4 linked regions of the Homo sapiens genome follow. The protein of the gene in region 3 interacts with the protein of the main gene of each other region in a pairwise test. Each region holds a gene or a part of one and is shown on either strand. Other genes may lie near its edges.

Region 1 (4,867 bases), on a different chromosome or scaffold from region 3:
GCCCAAGCTGGAGCCCAGTCGTGCGATCTCAGATCACCACAACCTCTGCCACCCAGGTTTAAGCGGTTCTCCTGCCTCAGCCTCTCAAGCAGCAGGTGCAAGCCACCATGCCTGGGTACTTTTTGTATTTTTAATACAGACAGAGTTTCACTATGTTGGCCAAGTTGATCTCGAACTCCTGACCTCAGGTGATCTGCCCGCCTTGGCCTCCCAAAATGCTGGGATTACAGGCGTGAGCCACTGTGCCCAGCTTTTTTTTTTTTTTTTTTTAGGGACAGAGTCTCACTCTATCGCCCAGGATGGAGTGCAGTGGTAGGATCATGGCTCACTGCAGCGGCAACCTCCCAGGCTCAGGTGATCCTCCTACCCGAGCCTCCTGAGTAGCAGGGACCACAGGCACACACCACCATGTCCAAGTAATGAGGTCTCGCTATATTGGCCAGACTGGTCTCGAACTCCTGGGGTCAAGTGATCCTCCCACCTCAGCCTCCCAAAGTGCTGGGATTACAGATGTGAGCCACTGCACTCAGCCTGAAAAGTCTTCACAAAGAATAAAGTTGGGAAGAATTTGGTGAGCAGTTCTCAAAACATACCACAAAGCAGCAATCATCAAACAATGTGTTATGGGAACAAGGACTCACAAAGCAGTCAATGAAATGTGAGACCCCAGAACACACTGTTCTTTTTTTTTTTTTTCCAAGACAGAGTCTCGCTTTGTCACCCAGGCTGAAGTGCAGTGGCACAATCCTGGCTCACTGCAACCTCCGCCTCCCAGGTTCAAACGATTATCCTGCCTCAGCCTCCCCAGTAGCTGGGGTTACAGGCGCTCGCCACCACGCCCGGCTAATTTTTGTGGTTTTTCTTTTTTCTTCTTTTTTGAGGCGGAGTCTCAGTCTGTCACCCAGGTTGGAGTGTGGTGGCGTGATCTTGGCTCACTGCAACCTCCGCCTCCCGGGTTCAAGCAATTCTCCTGCCTCAGCCTCCCAAGTAGCTGGGATTACAGGTGCCCACCGCCACACCAGGCTAATTTTTTGTATTTTTAGTAGAGACGGGGTTTCACCATGTTGTCCAGGCTGGTCTCAAATTCCTGACCTCGTGATCCGCCTGACTCGGCCTCCCAAAGTGCTGGGATTACAGGCGTGAGCCACCACACCCACCCAGATTGTTCTACTTCTAGACCTCGCTACAATGCTGACAGTTCCATGATAGAGTGAATAAAGATACGTTAGGCTGGGCGCGGTGGCTCACACCTGGAATCCCAGCACTTTGGGAGGCCGAGGTGGGTGGATCACCTGAGCTCAGGAGTTCACCATCACCCTGGGCAACATGACGGAAATACTGTCTCTACTAAAAATACAAAAATTAGCTGGGCGTGGTGGCGCACACCTGTAATCCCAGCTACTCAGAAGGCTGAGACAGGAGAATTGCTTGAGCCAGGGAGCTGAAGGCTGCAGCATGCGGAGATCACGCCACTGTACCCCAGCCTGGGCAATAGAGCAAGATTCTGTCTCAAAAAAACAAAAAAGGAGGGGAGGCCAGGTGCGGTGGCTCACGCCTGTAATCCCAGCACTTTGGGAGGCCGAGGTGGGCGGATCACCTGAGGTCGGGAGTTTGAGACTAGCCCGGCTAACATGGTGAAACCCCGTCTCTACTAAAAAATACAATTAGCCAAGTGTGGTGGCGGGTGCCTGTAGTCCCAGCTACTCGGGAGGCTGAGGCAGGAGAATGGCATGAACCTGGGAGGCGGAGCTTGCAGTGAGCGGAGATCGCGCCACTGGACTCCAGCCTGGGCAACAGAGCGAGACTCCGTCTCAAAAAAAAGAAAAAGGTATTTTAGATACTAACTTCATGGGACCAGCCAATGTGCACATCTACAAAAGTGCAACCCTGGAGATCTTCAGTTCTCCCTTCAAGCCCCATGAGAGAATCAGATGTTTAATTCCCACAGATCATTCAATGCACAATCACTGCGTGCCTACTGTGTGCCAGGCTCCAGCGCGCTGAGATGGACGGGTGCCCATCCAGGACCGGGGAACAGCCCAGAAGCCGCGTGCAACCCCTGGCCTCCTCCCCAGCACAAACGCCGACCCCTGCGCGACGGTCCAGACACTGGGGCCACCACCAAGGCCTGCTCCCAGCCTCCTCTCTGCCATGTCTCAGCTCACCCTGCACCCCCGCCAGGGACCAGGCCCAAGCCCAGGCCACTTGCTCTCCTCACAGCTGGCAAGGCCCGGCCCCTCTCTGCTCATCGGTGAACTCCAGACTTTATCCCAGCACCCCCAGTTCGTCCCGACATCCCCCCACCTTTTTTTTTTTTTTGAGACGGAGTCTCGCCCTGTCACCCAGGCTGGAGTGCAGTGGCGCAATCTTGGCTCACTGCAATTTCTGCCTTCCGGATTCAAGCCATCCTCCTGCCTCAGACTCTGAGTAGCTGGGATTACAGGTGCGTGCCACCGCGCCCAGCTTATTTGTGTATTTTTAGTAGAGACGGGGTTTTGCCACGATGGCCAGGCTGGTCTCAAACCCCTGACCTCAGATGTCTGCCCATCTCGGCCTCCCGAAGTGCTGGGATGATAGGCGTGAGCCACTGCGCCCGGCCTCAGCTGCTGTTTTCTTTCTCTCTGCTGTGTGGCCTGTGGCTGTCAGCAACCCATCGGGTCCGTTTGTTCCCACAGCCCCAGGACAGATGTGTCTGAGTGACCTTGTTTCAATCATGGAAACTGAGGCACAGAGCACTTGGGACACACTGCTCTGCGGACCTCTCAGCCCCAGGTCCCGCCAACACATCCAAGCCAGTACTTGTCCCTCCTGAGCCTGTCCTGGCTTGTGATGCTCCAGCCAGAAGTCTGGGGACCCCCACCACAGCCCCCCACGCCCTCACCTGCCAAGCTGCCTCCTCTCCTGGCCACAGGAACTCGCTTCCTCCAAAGAGGACCTGCATCCTCTACCCCTCATTTCTGCCGTCCCCACCGAGCCCGCTGCTGTCTCCTGCCTGGAGTCTGCAGCTGCTACTCCCCAGCCTCGCTCCTGGGCCCATCCACGGCGCGTTCCACCCTCAATGCGGATCTGGTCACACTGGGCCACAGGGCCTCCCTCACTCCTCCTGCTCCGGCCTTGCCATGGCTCCCACCTGCCCAGCCCCTCTGGGCTCTGGGCCTTCCATCCCTGAGCCTGGGGCACTGCACTCTCCATCAACATCACTTGCTCAGGGGGTCGTTCTGGACCAGGTCAGTGCCCCCTCTCCATTTTCAACCCTCCTGAAATGCTAAGGAAACACAGATGACCTTTCAACAAGGCAGGCTTCAACTGCACAGGTCCACTCATATGTGAATTTTTTCAATAAAGGCTGCCCCAACGGTGCCGGCCTCTCCTGCCTCCCCTTCCACCTCTGCCACCCCGGAGACAGACCCACCCTCCTGCTCCTGCTCCTCAGCCCTCAATATGAACACAAGGACACAGGCCTTCATCGTGGCCACCTCCACTGTGTGAACAGCAAACAGGATTTCTCCTTTTATTTTTTTTCCTTTTTTTTTTGAGACAGAGTCTTGCTCTGTCGCCCAGGCTGGAGTGCAGTAGCGCAACCTCGGCTCACTGCAACCTCCGCCTCCCGGGTTCAAGTGATTCTCCTGCCTCAGCCTCCCAAGTAGCTGGGACTACAGTTGTGCACCACCACACCCGGCTAATTTTTTGTATTTTTAGTAGAGACGGTGTTTCACCACGTTGGCCAGGATGGTCTCAAACTCCTGACCTCATGATTCGCCCGCCTCGGCCTCCCAAAGTGCTGGGATTACAGGCGTGAGCCACCGCGCCCAGCCTGTCCTTTATTTTTTTTGAGATGGTGTGTCACTGTGTCGCCTGGGCTGGAGTGCAATGGCGCAATCTCGGTTCCCTGCAACCTCCACCTCCTGGGTTCACGAGATTCTCCTGCCTCAGCCTCCTGAGTAGCTGGGATTACAGGTGTGCGCCACCACGCCCGGCTAATTTTTGTATTTTTGTAGAGACAGGGTTTCACCGTGTTGACCAGGCTGGTCTCGATCTCCCGACCTCGTGATCTGCCCGCCTCGGCCTCCCAAAGTGCTGGGATTCCAGGCGTGCGCCCCCGCACCCGGCCCCTTAGACTTTTCTGAATGTATTTTCTGTTCTCCAGCCTGTTATTGTGAGAACAGGAGGCTGGTGTGCATTGACCAAGTGTCCTCACAAGGCCTCCGGTCAGCGAGAAGCCATTCCTAGTTAAGTTCGTGGGAGTCAAAAGTTGTACTTGGATTTGAGCTGAGTGGGGGTCCACGCCCCTAACCCCGCATGTCGAGGGTCCGCTGTCCCAGGCCCGCCCACCTTACCTTGCTGCTATCTCCCGCTGGGCCTCATTGCCCTCTCCTGAGCCCCCCGGGGGCAGACCCCTCACCTACTTTTCTCCAAGGGGTCCTTGTCCTGCCTCCATCTTCCCCACTTTGCAACCGAGCCAGCGGTCCCTCAAGTGCAATCGCATACATGTCCCAAGGTCAGCCGGTGCCCGGGGCGCCCCACCTCCCCCCTCAAACAGAAAGCCTGGGATTCTCCAGCTGCACCTGCTGCTGGGTGAGTTCCAGCTGCATCCAACCTACCCCCTCCCCAAAGAGCACAAAGACCACCCAGGTGGAGGGAGCAAACCCACCGCCCCTCACTCCAAGCTAGGAGAGGCCCAGCAGCTAAGGACGACAGAGACAGGGACGGCGACACGGACGGCACAAGCCGTAGGAGGCCCCGGAACCCTCCAGGGGCAGGAACCTCTGCTAAGTACCGCCCAGGGCAGGACCCCACGAAAGGAGACCCAGCTGCCCATAAACACCCAGGAAGAAGCCAGAACACGTTAACAAAAGCACCCGAAGGT
Region 2 (4,867 bases), on a different chromosome or scaffold from region 3:
TGGAGTTCACATTTTTGAAAACCAGAAAATTTAATAATTATGCTCTTGCCAAACTACCCACTGTTTTCTTTATATTCTTGCCCCACAAGTTGCTTTACTTGAACTCTTGGGTTGGGCTTCATCTCACTGACTTCAGGCTTCTAACACACATAGGACACTTAGGACCTACTGGCTCTTTGGGTCACATCAGGGAGGAGAGCTGAAGTATGTTGAAGTTACTCAAATACATTCAAGCTACATAGATCTCTGATAAATTATTGGTGGTATGGTAGAAATGAAAATATACCCAAAAAAATCACAGAACTGTTTATTAAAATTATTGGTATACAGGCTCTTCTAACATAGATTAGCTTTCTCAACCTAATACATAAAATTACCAGCAAGAAAAAAAAAGTACAAGAATGACAGTTTATGGTTGAATTGGCTTGGTGTCATGATTCCCTGTTGTAGCATTCTCAGGCTATCTATGATAACAGAAACTGCAGCCACATTTGAATGGTTCCCTTCTTGATTCATTCTGAACTCTCCCTTTGGCCCAGTGTCTACTAGTTTTTCAAGCCAAGAACATCTGTTGAGTAACAGGTATCTCAATTTTGCCATACTTCCTTTCTGCATAGGTAGCAGCGTTCTTACTTCTACTCCTGAGGCAAGCCATCTCTGATGTCCTGGAAGGTCGTTTCTCTTCTATCCAGTTGTTGGGATGAATCTTCTGGTAGAAGGGAAGGGAATTTGGTACTAGGGTTGAAAGTCACGCTACTGAAGTTCTTTATTGACATCTCTGAGCAGAAGAGAGGCCCGAGTCGTCCTGGGGATTTTCTTCACTGAGCATTTGTGAAGATTCTGGGGTCAAGGTTGGGTTAAACTTTTGTGGTGGGTCCATCCGCGGTCTAGTCAACAGTACTAAGCTCTTCCTGCATCTTTGGGACCCAGCGGGAAGTGATGCCAGCTCTCAAATTGCTACAAGGTATCCTGGAAAGAAATCTATGACCCAGAAAGAGCCTGAAAACCCAAACTCCAGCAAATATTGGTGAAAGAGCCAACCCGCAAAGCCTTTTAAAACCTTGAATTCCTTACCTATAAACTGGGATAAAACCTATGGTGTAAGTCTGTTCTGAGAATTACATGAAATGGATTTATAGAGTTCTCAGTACAGTTCCTGAAATACAGCAGCTGACGCCAGTAGATGTTGATTTCCTTCTCCTTTCTACTTTTGAACTTAGCTGTAGTTATTAGCATTTTTTTAATGTTGAGGTAAACAGTTTCCTTAGTTGTGCATCAGTATTCAGTCCAATTTAATGTTAAATTATGTTTTTACTGGGAGCCTGTTCATGACCTTAAAATTGCCGTAAACCCTTTATAGAACAAGTCGTGTTTGGCTAAATATATAAACACAGATGTATCCTTACAGACTTTATAGTCTGATAGAGGAGATACACATGCATATAATGAGGGAATTCTGTGCTGAAGGTATCTGGGAAGAGAAGGTGATTCCATAGATTATCAGAATGGGAGAAGAAAGACATCTGGATGGAGGGGAAAGCAGGAACAGAGGCATGAGAGGAGTTAAAGAGGCCATCGGGGATTTCAATCCCAGCCAAAAGTTAGCCCCTTGTTACCTGTCTCCTCTCCTCTCCTCTCTTCTCCTTCCTTCCCTCCTTCCTTCCTTCTTTCCTTCCTTCCTTCCTTCCTCCCTCTTTTTCTACCTATCTACCTAGCTACTATTTTCTATCTATCCTCCTTTGTGAGTGTGTTTATGTATAGCAGGGGACGAGAACACCTACCTCATCAGGGGTGAGCTTAAATGAAGTAAAATGTTTCATAGGCTCCTGGTGTACAGTAAATGCCCAGTTGATATTGATGATGATGTCACCACTGCCTACACCACCTGTAGTTTCTTTCCTATGGCTGATCTGTCTAGGGATGAATTTGGGGGCCACCTTTTAAATTCTGCATGTAACATTAAGGTGGTTGGTGTTGAATTTGTAGGCAGAGGGAAACCATTGAAAGCAGGGGCAGGATTGGACCTGTGTTTTAGAACAGTATGAAAGGTGAGTTGGAGGAACCTGCCCATGTAGGATCTTTAATCTCCAGAGTCTAGCCTGTTAGAGAAGCTGGTGAAGTCATTTAAGGCATGGGGTATTGGTCTGAACTCAGAATATTTAATGTTATGTTAAATGTGCTTTTTTTTTTTTTTTTCCTGAAGGGAGGGGAGGAGGAAGAATTTACTCAATGTAAATATTATTTTATCCAAATGGTGAGAGAATACATGAAAAGACTAGTAAGGCATCTTTTTACCATTTGAGATGTTATAGTAGCGTGTTAACAAAATAGGCAATTTTTTTTTTAAAACTAGGTTATATTTCTTTGTAGTTGTTTATGCTTGGGCCTGTCTGCAAATGATTTAACAAATCATATCATATATTTGAATTACTGTTGCTTAACCTGACACAGGCAATAAGGAGAGAAAAGAATGTCCTTTTTCTTGCTTTTGGGTTTTTTTTTTTTTTTTTTTTTTTTTTTTGAGACGGAGTCTCCCTCTGTCACCAGGCTGGAGTGCAGTGGCGCAGTCTCAGCTGACTGCACCCTCCACCTCCCGGGAGTCAAGCGATTCTCCTGCCTCAGCCTCCCGAATAGCTGGGTCTACAGGCATGTGCCACCACACCTAGCTAATTTTTGTATTTTTAGTAGAGACGGGGGTTTCATCATGTTGGCCAGGATGGTCTCGATCTCTTGACATTGTGATCTGCCCGCCTCGGCCTCCCAGAGTGTTGGGATTACAGGCGTCAGCCATCTCTCCAGAGCTGATTTTTTTTGGAGGGAGGGGTTTGAATTACTTTTTTCTTTCTCTCTTTAGCATCATTGTAGACCCATGGATTTTTATGTATCCAATGTGTGTTTTTGGTTTTTTAAATTTTGAGACAGTCTTGCTCTGTCACCCAGGCTGGAGTGCAGTGGTGTGACCTTGGCTTACTACAACCTCCGCCTCCCGGGTTCAAGCTATTCTCCTGGCTCAGCCTCCCAAGCAGCTGGGATTACAGGCGTGCACCACCATGCCTGGCAAATTTTTTGTATTTTTAGTAGAGATGGGGTTTTACCTTGTTGGTCCAGCTGGTCTCAAACTCCCAAGCTCAAGTGATCCTCTCACCTCAGCCTCCCAAAGTGCTGGGATTACAGGTGTGAGCCACCATGTGTGGCTTTATCCAGTGTTTTAATCAAATACTCACTGTTTTTCCTTAGCTTTTCACAACTTGGACATGTTGAGGTCCTTTCAACCTGGTTCTCTTTCCTTTGACATGACACGTAATCTCTGAAGCTTTTCTTGCTTTCTGACACAAGATGTCTAAGGTTCACTTTGTGCTTTTCCTGCCAAATACCTATCAACCGAGTCTTTCAGCTTGCTTTATTGAGGATTAGAATTTAGATACAGAAATCTGGGTGTTATATGTTCTTACTGTTAGAATGCCCATGCTTTTATTGGACAGCCATGGGAAGCATACAGATTTTGATTTTTATATTGGTATTTCCAGTTCGAATTTAACATCACAGAGTTTTTACTATGAGCTTATCCTTTTTTCTCTAACGTTGAAAATTTACATTCTTAGCAACATTAATATAATTGCATTATCTTACAGTATAAATGTAGTTTGAAAATAACACTAATAAGCAACTGTAGCTTTATGTTTGGTTATGGTTTTTTCCTTAAAATATATCCACATAAGCATGTACAGTTGACATTCTAATTTGGAAGGCCATTTGAAAAGATTTTCTCTGATTATGTTATATGTTTGATAATTAATTTGGGTTGTTTGCCTGAAATTCTTCCTTTAAGAATTGCTTTAGTTTTTTATTTAATGTATTTTTTTTTTTTTTTTTTTGAGACAGAGTCTCGCTCTGTCGCCCAGGCTGGAGTCCAGTGGTGCGATCTCGGCTCACTGCAAGCTCCGCCTCCCGGGTTCACGCCATTCTCCTGCCTCAGCCTCCTGAGTAGCTGGGACTACAGGTGCCCGCCACCACGCCCGGCTAATTTTTGTATTTTTAGTAGAGACGGGGTTTCACTATGTTAGCCAAGATGGTCTCGATCTCCTGACCTCGTGATCTGTCCGCCTCGGCCTGCCAAAGTGCTGGGATTACAGGCGTGAGCCACCGCGCCTGGCCTATTTAATGTATTTTTTAACATGTAGAACATTTATGTGAACATTTATGTAGTTAAAAAATCTGATCTGTGTTAAAAAGTTATGTTCACAGCTTCACTTTAATTCTGTTCCTCCACGAATTTCTCTCTTGCCCCAGTTGTTTTTGCTTTGTTTTTCTGATATTTCATTTTTGCAAATGTAAGCATATGTGTATATTTTTGTTTCCCTTTCCTACACAATAGGCAGCGTTCTATGCACACTGCTCTGCCGTTCTATGCACACTGCTCCCTTTTACTTAATTTATTCTGGAGAGCGCTTCATTGAAGTGCGTGCTTGCAACTCATCTCCTAATGATGAACATTTGGGTTGTTTATATTCTCTTGGCTGTTATAAATATTGCGGCAATGAATAACCTTGTGGGTATATTGTTTTTTATTTGTGCAGATACAGCTTTAAGATAGATGTGGGGTGAAAGGTAAACACATTTGTAGTTTTGTTAGTGTCAAAATGTTACATTTTCTTTTTAAAACTTTTTAATTTTTTGTAGAGATGAGGTCTCACAGTGTTGCCCAGGATGATCTTGAACTCCTGACCCCAAGCAGTTCTTTTACCTGGGCTTCCCAAAAAACTTGGGATTACAGGCGTCAGGCATCAATACAGCCTAAAAAAATTACATTTTCAGGCTCAGTGTGATGGCTCACACCTGTAATCCCAGCACTTTGGGAGGCTGAGGT
Region 3 (4,867 bases):
TAGTTATAACAAAGGTATATTATACACAAAGGGAAGGATGAATTTTAATGACCTGTAAATTGCATAACTGGTAGTTTGAAACATAGAATCACTCATAGTAATCATATTTTCAATTAATTATATCAATTAATTATATACCATAATTTATTTACGTATGAATATTACAGAATGTCTATCCACTTGAAATATTTTTAGTGTCATTTTTTCAAGCTGAAAGCCTGAAACAAACTTAACCTTCATTACATGTTATTAGATGAGATACTGTATAAAGGTGAAATATACACCAGTTCAGGTAAAAGGAAGACTTCACTTATTTCCTAAATATCGTTTAGGGTTCTATCTTAATCATGTTCCCTGCTGTGTCCCATTTATTCCAAACTTTTCAACATTTTATGTGTTCACCCAGCCCCACCATCTTCCACCTAATCATGTCCCCACTTTTTCTCCCTTATTATAAAGTTGAATTTTCTCTTTCCCATAGGAAAGAACAGGACAGTGCACGTGTGTGTGTGTGTGTGTGTGTGTGTGTGTGTGTTACATGTGTATGCATGTGTGTGTGGTCTCTTGTCAATGGATTCCATACTAGAGCAGTAGTTCTCAATTTTGGCTGCATCATGAAACCTTCTGAGATGCATTCACAATTTTTAAACTACTGATGCTGATTGGGTTAGTCTGTGCTATACTTGGGCACTGGGAGTTTTGCAAGTTCCCACAGAATATTCTAATGTGAAGCCCAGGTTGAGCATCACTGTGCTAGAATGTGGAAGCTTCTTTAATTTCTTTTCCTTTCAATTCTGTATTTATGCTGAATATTTTGGTTCTACAGCTGGACTAAAAATAAATTATTTTGACTACAGTAACTCTGAGTTTTGCCATTTTTGGAAATGTTTCACTTGGTAGATAGGGCACTGATTTTGCTTAGATTTATGTGGTTGTCTCTGGACAAATGACATTTGGGAAGTCTGCATAAGTACTCACTGCAGTCACTCCAGCCCTGCTTCATGCCTTCCAAAAACCATATGACAACAGGCAGAGATTTCCATGATCTGGAAAGGGCAGCCTGAACCCTAGACTCACCACCTGCAGGTCCAGCCTGTACCTGGCCATCCTGAAGTTGGAGATAACTATTTCTATGGACAACTCCAGCAGTGGCCAAAAAGCCAGGCCTGTGAAAAATAAAGTCCTTTCTGGCCACCAGCAGGAAACCAGCCAATCTCCATCACCTTCTGCAGATTTTTTTTTTCTACTTTTATTTATTATGAGCATTTCTTACATGGTCATTTTTCTGAATCTCTCCTTACAATTTCTCTGGCAGTATGAATTTTCAGGACCACCTTAGAGTTAAAATATATGAGTAGAGGCCAAGAAGGTATTTGAATTTAGAGTTCATTGAGTCCCATTGTATTAGTTGGCTATAGCTCCTATAACAAAGTACCACAGAGTTGGTGGCTTAAACAACAGAAATTTATTTATTTATTGTCTTGCAGTTCTGGAAGCTACAAGCCTAAGATCAAGGCATCTGTAGGGCTGATTTCTTCTGAAGGTTCTCCCTATGGCTTGTAGATGGCATTCTTCTCCCTCTGTCTTCACACAGTCTTCTCTCTATGTATTTCTGTGTCCTAATCTCCCTTCTTATAAACACACCAGCTGCACTGGATTAGGGCCTACCCTTGTGACTGCATTTTATCTCAATTACCTCTTTAAAGACCCTGTCTCCAATACAGTGACATTGTGAGGGGGTTAAAACTTCAGCATATGAATTTGGGAAAACACAATTCAGACAATAACATCCATGATGAAAGAGTTTATTTCCCTCAGTTGGGATCCTTGTATGTATGAATTCATGGCCATAATGATTGTTTTTACCTTCTCCAGCAAGAGAGCAGAGCCTGACTTTCTGGGAGATACAGATCTCTGTCATTTAAAAATTCTGTGATGAATGTAGTTGGTAACCAAATTGAACTCAAAAAATATAAAGGCTCTGAAAACAAATGCAGAACCCATTAAGTTATGCAGTGAATAAAGGGAAAATGTAAAATAATTTTCCTGATTTTGTGAAAACTATATTTCAGATAATCTGGGAGAAGTTTGATTTAAAATTGTCTCCGTCATAAACATTCTGAGTTTGTTTTTCTTGTCAGGATACAGTTCCAATTAAGAGTGTGGAATATATGGTCATCATACAACTGTCTTTGCTGGTTTCTTTTGCTATGTTATTTATTTGGGTTAGGAGACTGTACCAATCCCCTCATCTATGCAGAGGACTTCAATTTGCACTCACAGGCTGCCTGCTTCAAAGTATTTTTAAAGTATTTTTGTGACTCTCAGTGTAGGGGAGTTTTTCAGTCACTTTCTTAAGGTAATTCACCTAATATTTCCTTCTGGAAAATGTGGGTTTTCCAGATCTTACCTGAGTCCATCAATCCATTAAAATTGTGGTATAATGGCAAGGACTTACCTTGAGGTTTGGGCTTGGTCAGTTTGCCACAGGGCTTGGAGATGGTGACAGTCTTCTGGCATTCGGCATTGTGCAGGGCTCGCTTCAGACTTCCAGTTCTGGTCTTCAGGGCTGTGTTCAGGTCACATTCTCCCCAGGCCTGGAACTGGTATTTGCACTCCGCTAAAGGCAGGGTAGAACCAAACAGAAATCCTTGAAAGATCCTATCGTACTTCCAGGATAATAAAGGCACACTTTTGTTTGTAACTTTTTTATTGAAATAATTATAGATCCATATGCAGCTATAAGAAATAATACAGAGTGTATGCGTGTGTATTGATTTCTGTTCAATTCTATCACATGTGTAGATGCATACGATCACCATCAATATACACCATTAATACACACTAATATACACTATTAATATACAGTCCCAATACAACAGTGGGTCATTCTTTATAGTCATGGCCTAGCCACCTTCCTCCTTCCCCACCTCCTTAATCCCCGGCAACTCCTTATCTGTTCTCTAGCTCTATCATTTTTCTAGCTTAAAAATGTTGCATAAATGGAATTCTACAATATGTAAACTTCTGAGATTGGCTTTTTTATTTAGCATAATTTCCTGAAGATCCATCCAAGTCATGTGCATCAATAGTCTGTTTCTTCCTATTGCTGAGTAGTATTCCATGGTCCCAATGTACCCCAGTTTGTTTAACCATTCATCAGCTGAAGGACATCCGAGTTGTTACCAGCCTTGGGTTACTACAAATAGAACTGCTATATAAATTCATGTATAGGTTTTTGTGGAAACATCAGTTTTCATTTCTCTGAGATAAATTACCAAGAAACTGCTGTGTTACATGGTAAATGCATGTTTCATTTCGTAAAAAACTGCAATACTCTTTTTCCACTGTGGCTGTACCACCTTACAATTTCCACTGGCAACATATGAGGGATCTGGTTTCTTGGCACCCTCACTAGCATTTCGTCTTGTCACTATTTTTTATTCTAGCCACTTTGATAGATGTAGAGTGATATCTCATTATGGTTTCAATTTCTAGTTCCCTAATAAGGAAAAGATGCTGAATATATTTTCAGGAGTTCATTTGTTGCCTATATATCCTCTTTGGTAAAATGTCTGTTAATGTTTTTTCCCCACTTTCTTATTGAACTGTTAGGTTTTGTTTGTTTTGTTTTTTGTTGTTGTTGTTTTGTTGTTTACTGTTGAGTTTGAGAGTTATTTAATATTCTCAATGTAAGTCTTTAAGATATACCTTTTAAACTTTTTGTAAGTGGGTTTTTAAGGTGCCCATATACAATTTAAGACCAAATGTACCTGTTCTCCATCACACTTTTATAGAACTTGTCTATATCCATTCAAATAAAAAATACCCCAAAGATTACAGAGGGAGAAAAAGACATACATGTATACATCCATTATCCTTCCTCACTTGTCTATGGGCCACAATGCATTTCCATAGAACACAGATAGGACATTTCAGGCATCATGTCCCACTATGGCTAAGAAAGACAAAAAGTCTGGATTGTGGAAGAGGTTATTTGAGGGTTCAATACTGGATATAAAGTTGAAAGTGTTGAGAGATCCTGTCTCAGATAGATAGATCAGGCCAGCATAAGACTGACTCCAGTCAGTGGGAGAAAGATTTATGAAACGTGGCTGTGAGCAGCCCTGCTGAACTCAGTAAGTGAATCTGTGAAACTGTGTGGAGGTTGGGGAGGGATCAAATGGGAGAGAAGGTCTGAAAGTGACAGGGAGAAACATGGAGAAGCAGGAGAATAAATAAGAAAAGGGGAAAGGAAAAATCAAAGGAACTTAGAAATAGAAGAAAGGAGAGAGAAGACAGATCAATTAACATTATTCAGAGGAATCAAGGATATATTTTATGTCCCTTTGGAAAGGCAGTGGTTCCCAACCAGGGATGATTTTGACCAACAGGGTACATTTGGCCATAGATATTTGGAGACATTTTTAGTTTTCACATCTGGAGCGGGTGAGGAATGCTACCGGAAACTAGCGAGTAGAAGCCAGCGATGCTCCTAAATACCCTAAAATGCACAAGACAGCCTCCACAACAAATAATTGCCTGGCCTGAAATGGGACCAGTCTGGTCACTTTGTGTCTGGTAAGATAAAGTTATTTAAAATAAAAAGTACTTATCCTTAAAAAGACATTTGGTGGAAAAATTTGAGAATTATCTCAGAGTAGGAGATTAACTCAGTAGCATGAGGCTTACCGCCAAATTGCTTCTTCCAGTTGCAGGGGATCTTACATCTCTGGGTCTTCATGGTTTGCTTGCACTCAGCTCCAGTCCGAGTGCCCTCCCGTGTGCCCAGCCCACAGTCTCCACTGGTGGGCACACACACACTCCACTGCCATTCTCCACAGTCAGACTTCTTCACTTTTTTTTC
Region 4 (4,867 bases), on a different chromosome or scaffold from region 3:
TTATGCCAAAATAAAGTGACATGCTTATTTCACTGCTATTATTTGATATATTAAGTATTTTGTCCTCCTACCTGCACATGTAAAATAGTGAAGTTTTATAAACCACAAGTAAAAATATGAATAAAGAAGTTAGCGTGACTTGAATTTTCCAAATCTCCAAACGTAATGGAAGTTATGTAAGAAAAGAAACCTACATCAAACTCCTACAAGAAACAATACTAAAGTCTAAAGCTATAATTCTGAGCCATTCACCCCTTTCAGCTAGTTTCCTTTTCTTTCAGACTCACCTTTAAAAGATGGTTTCTTTCAAACTAATGGGGTTTAGTTTGAAAGTCTAAAATGTCGGCCGGGTGTAGTGGCTCATGCCTGTAATCCCAGCATTTTAGGAGGCTGAGGCGGGCATTGCCTAAGGTCAGGAGTTCGAGACCAGCCTGGCCAACATGGTGAAACCCCGTCTCTACTAAAAATACAAAAACTAGCCGGGCGTGGTGGCAGGTGCTTGTAATCCCAGCTGCTTGGGAGGCTGAGGCAGGAGAATCGCTTGAACCTGGGGGGCAGAGGTTGCAGTGAGCAGTGAGCTGAGATTGCGCCACTGCACTCTAGCCTGGGCAACAGAGCGAGACTTTGTCTCAAAAAAAAAAAAAAAAAAAAAAAAAAAAGCTAAAATGCCTAAAAACACTTCCATCTCAAAAAATTTATAGAATATAATCACTAAACAATTTCACTTATTTGAATATTGTTTACTTCTGAAATATTCAAGAATAATGAATACTTTAAAAAAGTGATCTAAGTAAAAAACCCAAAATCTTATAGTATAATTTCTTTCACATGGTGGGAACAACAGATTCTGCATGAGAAGGCCGGCTCTACTGCTTATCAGCCACTGGATGCTGTCACTCATGTCATTTAACTTTTCTGCCTCCCTCACATGAGAGGCAAGTGGGGATAATAATGCATACTTCACAAATAAATCAAACCAAGTCAAATGTTAAAAATGCTCCAGGCCGGGCGTGGTGGCTCATGCCTGTAATCCCAGTACTTTGGGAGGTTGAGATGGGTGGATCACCTGAGCTCAGGAGTTCAGGACCAGCCTGACCAATATGGTGAAACCTGTCTCTACTAAAAATACAAAAAACTAGCCAGGCGTGGTGGCGTGTGCCTGTAGTTCCAGCTACTAGGGAGGCTGAGACAGAATTGCTTGAACCCAGGAGGCAGAGGTTGCAGTGAGCCGAGATTGCGCCACTGCACTCCAGCCTGGGCGATAGAGTGAGACTCCACCTTAAAACAAACAAAAACCTCTGTAAGCTGCAATATGCTTCACATGTGGCACCCATCCACAGTAACACCCACTACACAACCTATATCATTAATAAACAGGAATTTTGTTTGAAGGCCTGAAATGAGGTAATGTTAACTTAGATTACCAGGGGAGATAGGTAAGGCCAAAAACATACTTCATCTACCTAAAAGTTTACCTGCGCTATGTGCCTGGTAGTTTTCCCCCTTTTCTTTTTTTCTCAAAAGCTCTCTGCTCCCAAGATCCAGGACTAAAGCTATGGCTATTAATGCCATGTTTAGGTATATATTATGGGCTAGTGTGGAAACCCAGCCCCCAGTTACAATATGGTTTCTACGGGAAAATGTTTGGTTTTTTTTTTTTTGATAGGGAATCTTGCTGTCACCAGGCTGGAGTGCAGTGGCGCAATCTCGGTTCACTGCAACCTCCACCTCCTGGGTTCAAGCAATTCTCCTGTCTCAGCCTCCCAAGTAGCTGGGATTACAAGTGCGGCCACCATGCCCAGCTAATTTTTTTGTATTTTTAGTAGAGATGGGGTTTCACCATGTTGGCCAGGATGGTCTCGATCTCCTGACCTTGTGATCCGCTCACCTTGGCCTCCCAAAGTGCTGGGATTACAGGCATGAGCCACCGCCCAGCCCTTTCTGTTTTTTTAGATGTAGTCCTGCTTTGTTGCCCAGGCTGGACTTGAACTCCTTGGCTCAAGTAATCCTCCTGCCTCAACTTCCCAGGTAGCTGGGACTACAGGCATGTACCACACCCAGCTAAAGTGTCCCATATTTTAAAAATGAGTCTGGAAGACCCAGTATTCACAAACTGGAAATTGCCAGATTCATGCAAAGCTAGTAGATATTTAAGGCTATCAGTCTGACTTACCATACCAACAACGAGTTCCAAGGAATTATTTCCATTATTAAGAAACTCTACTTTTGACAGTCATTTGAGTCTTACCAAGGTAGGGCAATAACCCAGAGATATTATGTATTCAACACTTGGCATACATATGGCTCCTTTTTGATAATTTATACTAAGACTTTTATTAAATAAACTTTAACAATGGTTTAAGTCTAGTAACTTAAAAATTGGAAACAATGCAGACTAAATGATCATCTTTCTGATAGATTGTCAAAGCAGTTAAAGGATACTGAAAAGTAGCTCACATCAGGAACTCTTCAGCTTGTCATTTTTCTTTGGCTCTAACAGTACTTATATCTGCTTTTAATTTGCTGAGTTTGTAAAATACAGTGAATTTTTTGCCTATTTTAGTTCTGTATATTACCAAATATATTTCGGTCAATTCAACAAACACTTTAGAACACCCACAGTGGGCCAGGCCTGTAATAGGTGCTGAAAGTAAAAGATGATCTTGGTTCTCAAGGTCAGGTGGGAACAGTTTTGATATAGGTAAAACATAGGTGCATGTACATCCCCCTCCCATTAGAAACAACTACTTAAGGAGAAGTACAGAAGTTTGCTGGAATTATGACAAAGTGAAGAAAAAGGGTCATTCTAGTTACAAAATTACTTTCTAAATATAACATGATTTAAAAGTTTTGTCAATTGAGGCTGAAGAATTTTGTGTAAAGTATGAAAGACCTTAGGATTATGGGGATGTTAGACTTCTCAATAACCTGTAAAATATTTGGGGGTTAGATGATATAGTACATTAGGGGGCTGAAAATACATAGAAAATGGCTATAATCACTGCATTTTTAGTATGTGAACAATACAGGATCTTTTCCAGAAACCTTTGCTGCCAGAAATGATACTGACACATGCTGGGTCAATTTTTCAAGATGTTAACAGTGACACAAACCAAAAATATCTCTGCTCAAAAAAGTGTGATTTATTAACTGTAAGAGGCAAAAGCAAAGAGTGATTTTTACCTGTCATTTTAGTCAGGGGTTCCATCAGAGTCACTCCAATTCTGTCTATGGCAATAATACGATGCATATTGAGAAACTGCTTCAAAGATGGATGTATAACTTTTTGGCACAGGACAAGATCTACGTGGTCACTGATTAGCTGCCTTCCTAGGTTAAGCAGCTGGTCCAAGACTGCATTTTCAAGAGAAACCCCATAACTGACCACCACAGTTCCTTCTCCAGTGTCAGAAGTGTCTCCGGATAAAGTTGTACAAAAGAGTGCCACCTTGAGGGCAGTTGATTTTTTGATAGGTAATAGCCTCATTAATTGAACTTCTGACATTTCAATGAGTATCCCAGGTAATACAGTGGAATCTATAACTCTTTGACCTTTTAAAGGTACAATTAAACTCTTTCCTAAAATGATGTGGCCTTCAGCATTTTCTGGAATTGTAAGCAAAAAGGCTCTCAGGATCAAAGCACTGACATGCTCTGTTTCCTTTCTGGTGAGCATACAGGCAGGTTTACTTGTTAATATACTACGCACCAAACAAAGGAGGATCTGAGTACTACTAAAGTCCACTGGGATTCGACAACCACAGGTCTCAGACTTGAGATAACTGATGCAAAGACTCAAAAGATGTTTATTTAATCTAATGACAGTGGTGGGTGTCAAGCCTAATCTCTGAACATTTTCAATCAGGTTGCAGCAAAGAATAGCTGTGAATAAGCCACAATCACTGAAGCTTGACACATGATTCTGTATGGAGGCTGTCAGGATCTTTAAAATGGGATGTGTGACCAAAAGGTGACTGAGCAGAGCTGAGGACTGTGAGGTTGTACACACGTAACCTCCAAAGCCATTGTGCAGCTGCTTCAGCCTACCTGAGGGGCCATAGCATGATGTTACAATTCTTTTCAAGACAGAAAGTGTGGTCCTGACTCTCTCAGTTGTCAGTGGTTCACTCTTACACAATGATGGCTTCTTAGCTTCCAAACGAGACATCTTACTTCAGGTGGTAACTAGTGAAGACCGTTTTTATTTTGTAAACCACATTTTTCTATTTATTGCATTATCACGTTTTAACATTAAAAATTATTCTTTAGGAATTAAAGTATGAATATGCAGCATTGTGGCTATAAAATCAAAAAGTTCAATGTTTATGAAGCTAATCAGCATAGAATGATTTAATGACAAATTAGTAATTCCAAATATTTATTTTACTTCACTCTTCAATACTCTTTTGTTTGCTTTGAGACTGAAATTTTACAGACTGCTTTGCAGACCTCTGCAAAAAGTATGTTCCAAGATGGACACCTATGAAAGATATCCCAGCTACAAGAAGCCAGTTCTTTCTAATCCAACTGGTATTTTTCATCTCTTCTTTCGATATGAAGCTCAGATTCAAAGCTGCTTCTTTACCTAATAAATAATAAAAAAAACATTTTAGAGAAATACTTCCCAAGCAGTTTGTAGACTGCAGTTTAATAATTTATTCTAATGCTCTGCTGCCTTTTTAGAAAAAGGAACTACTAACTGGCACAAACGTCCAGAAAATGAGAAAGGTAGACCAACTTTGACTTAAAATTCCTTTATTCTTCAATAAATCCCCTCTACAAGAAAAAGTGCTTGTATTTCAGTGATTCTGTAAGGCACAACAACATGGCTAGAAAGCTTACAGCACAGTTATTTGAATATGGCATG

The links. The genes of interacting proteins can lie anywhere in the genome.
Region 1: the proteins of PTN (region 3) and BTBD2 interact in a two-hybrid assay, tested with the Homo sapiens proteins (one large-scale study listed by BioGRID and IntAct).
Region 2: the proteins of PTN (region 3) and SPIN1 interact in a two-hybrid assay, tested with the Homo sapiens proteins (one large-scale study listed by IntAct).
Region 4: the proteins of PTN (region 3) and MKKS interact in a two-hybrid assay, tested with the Homo sapiens proteins (one large-scale study listed by BioGRID and IntAct).

What each region holds. Positions count from the first base shown.
Region 1 is NC_000019.10:2,008,339-2,013,205, forward strand, and holds part of BTBD2 (BTB/POZ domain-containing protein 2), read right to left. Parts: intron 1-4,867.
Region 2 is NC_000009.12:88,390,953-88,395,819, forward strand, and holds part of SPIN1 (spindlin-1), read left to right. Parts: intron 1-4,867. UniProt on the Homo sapiens protein: Chromatin reader that specifically recognizes and binds histone H3 both trimethylated at 'Lys-4' and 'Lys-9' (H3K4me3K9me3) and is involved in piRNA-mediated retrotransposon silencing during spermatogenesis.
Region 3 is NC_000007.14:137,248,772-137,253,638, forward strand, and holds part of PTN (pleiotrophin isoform 1 precursor), read right to left. Parts: intron 4,867-4,867; coding exon 4,693-4,866; intron 2,621-4,692; coding exon 2,459-2,620; intron 1-2,458.
Region 4 is NC_000020.11:10,409,347-10,414,213, forward strand, and holds part of MKKS (molecular chaperone MKKS), read right to left. Parts: intron 4,586-4,867; 5' UTR 4,542-4,585; coding exon of another isoform or gene 4,389-4,541; 5' UTR 4,169-4,388; coding exon 3,184-4,168; intron 1-3,183. Other genes in the region: uncharacterized LOC128706666, read right to left, coding at 4,389-4,541. UniProt on the Homo sapiens protein: Probable molecular chaperone that assists the folding of proteins upon ATP hydrolysis. Plays a role in the assembly of BBSome, a complex involved in ciliogenesis regulating transports vesicles to the cilia.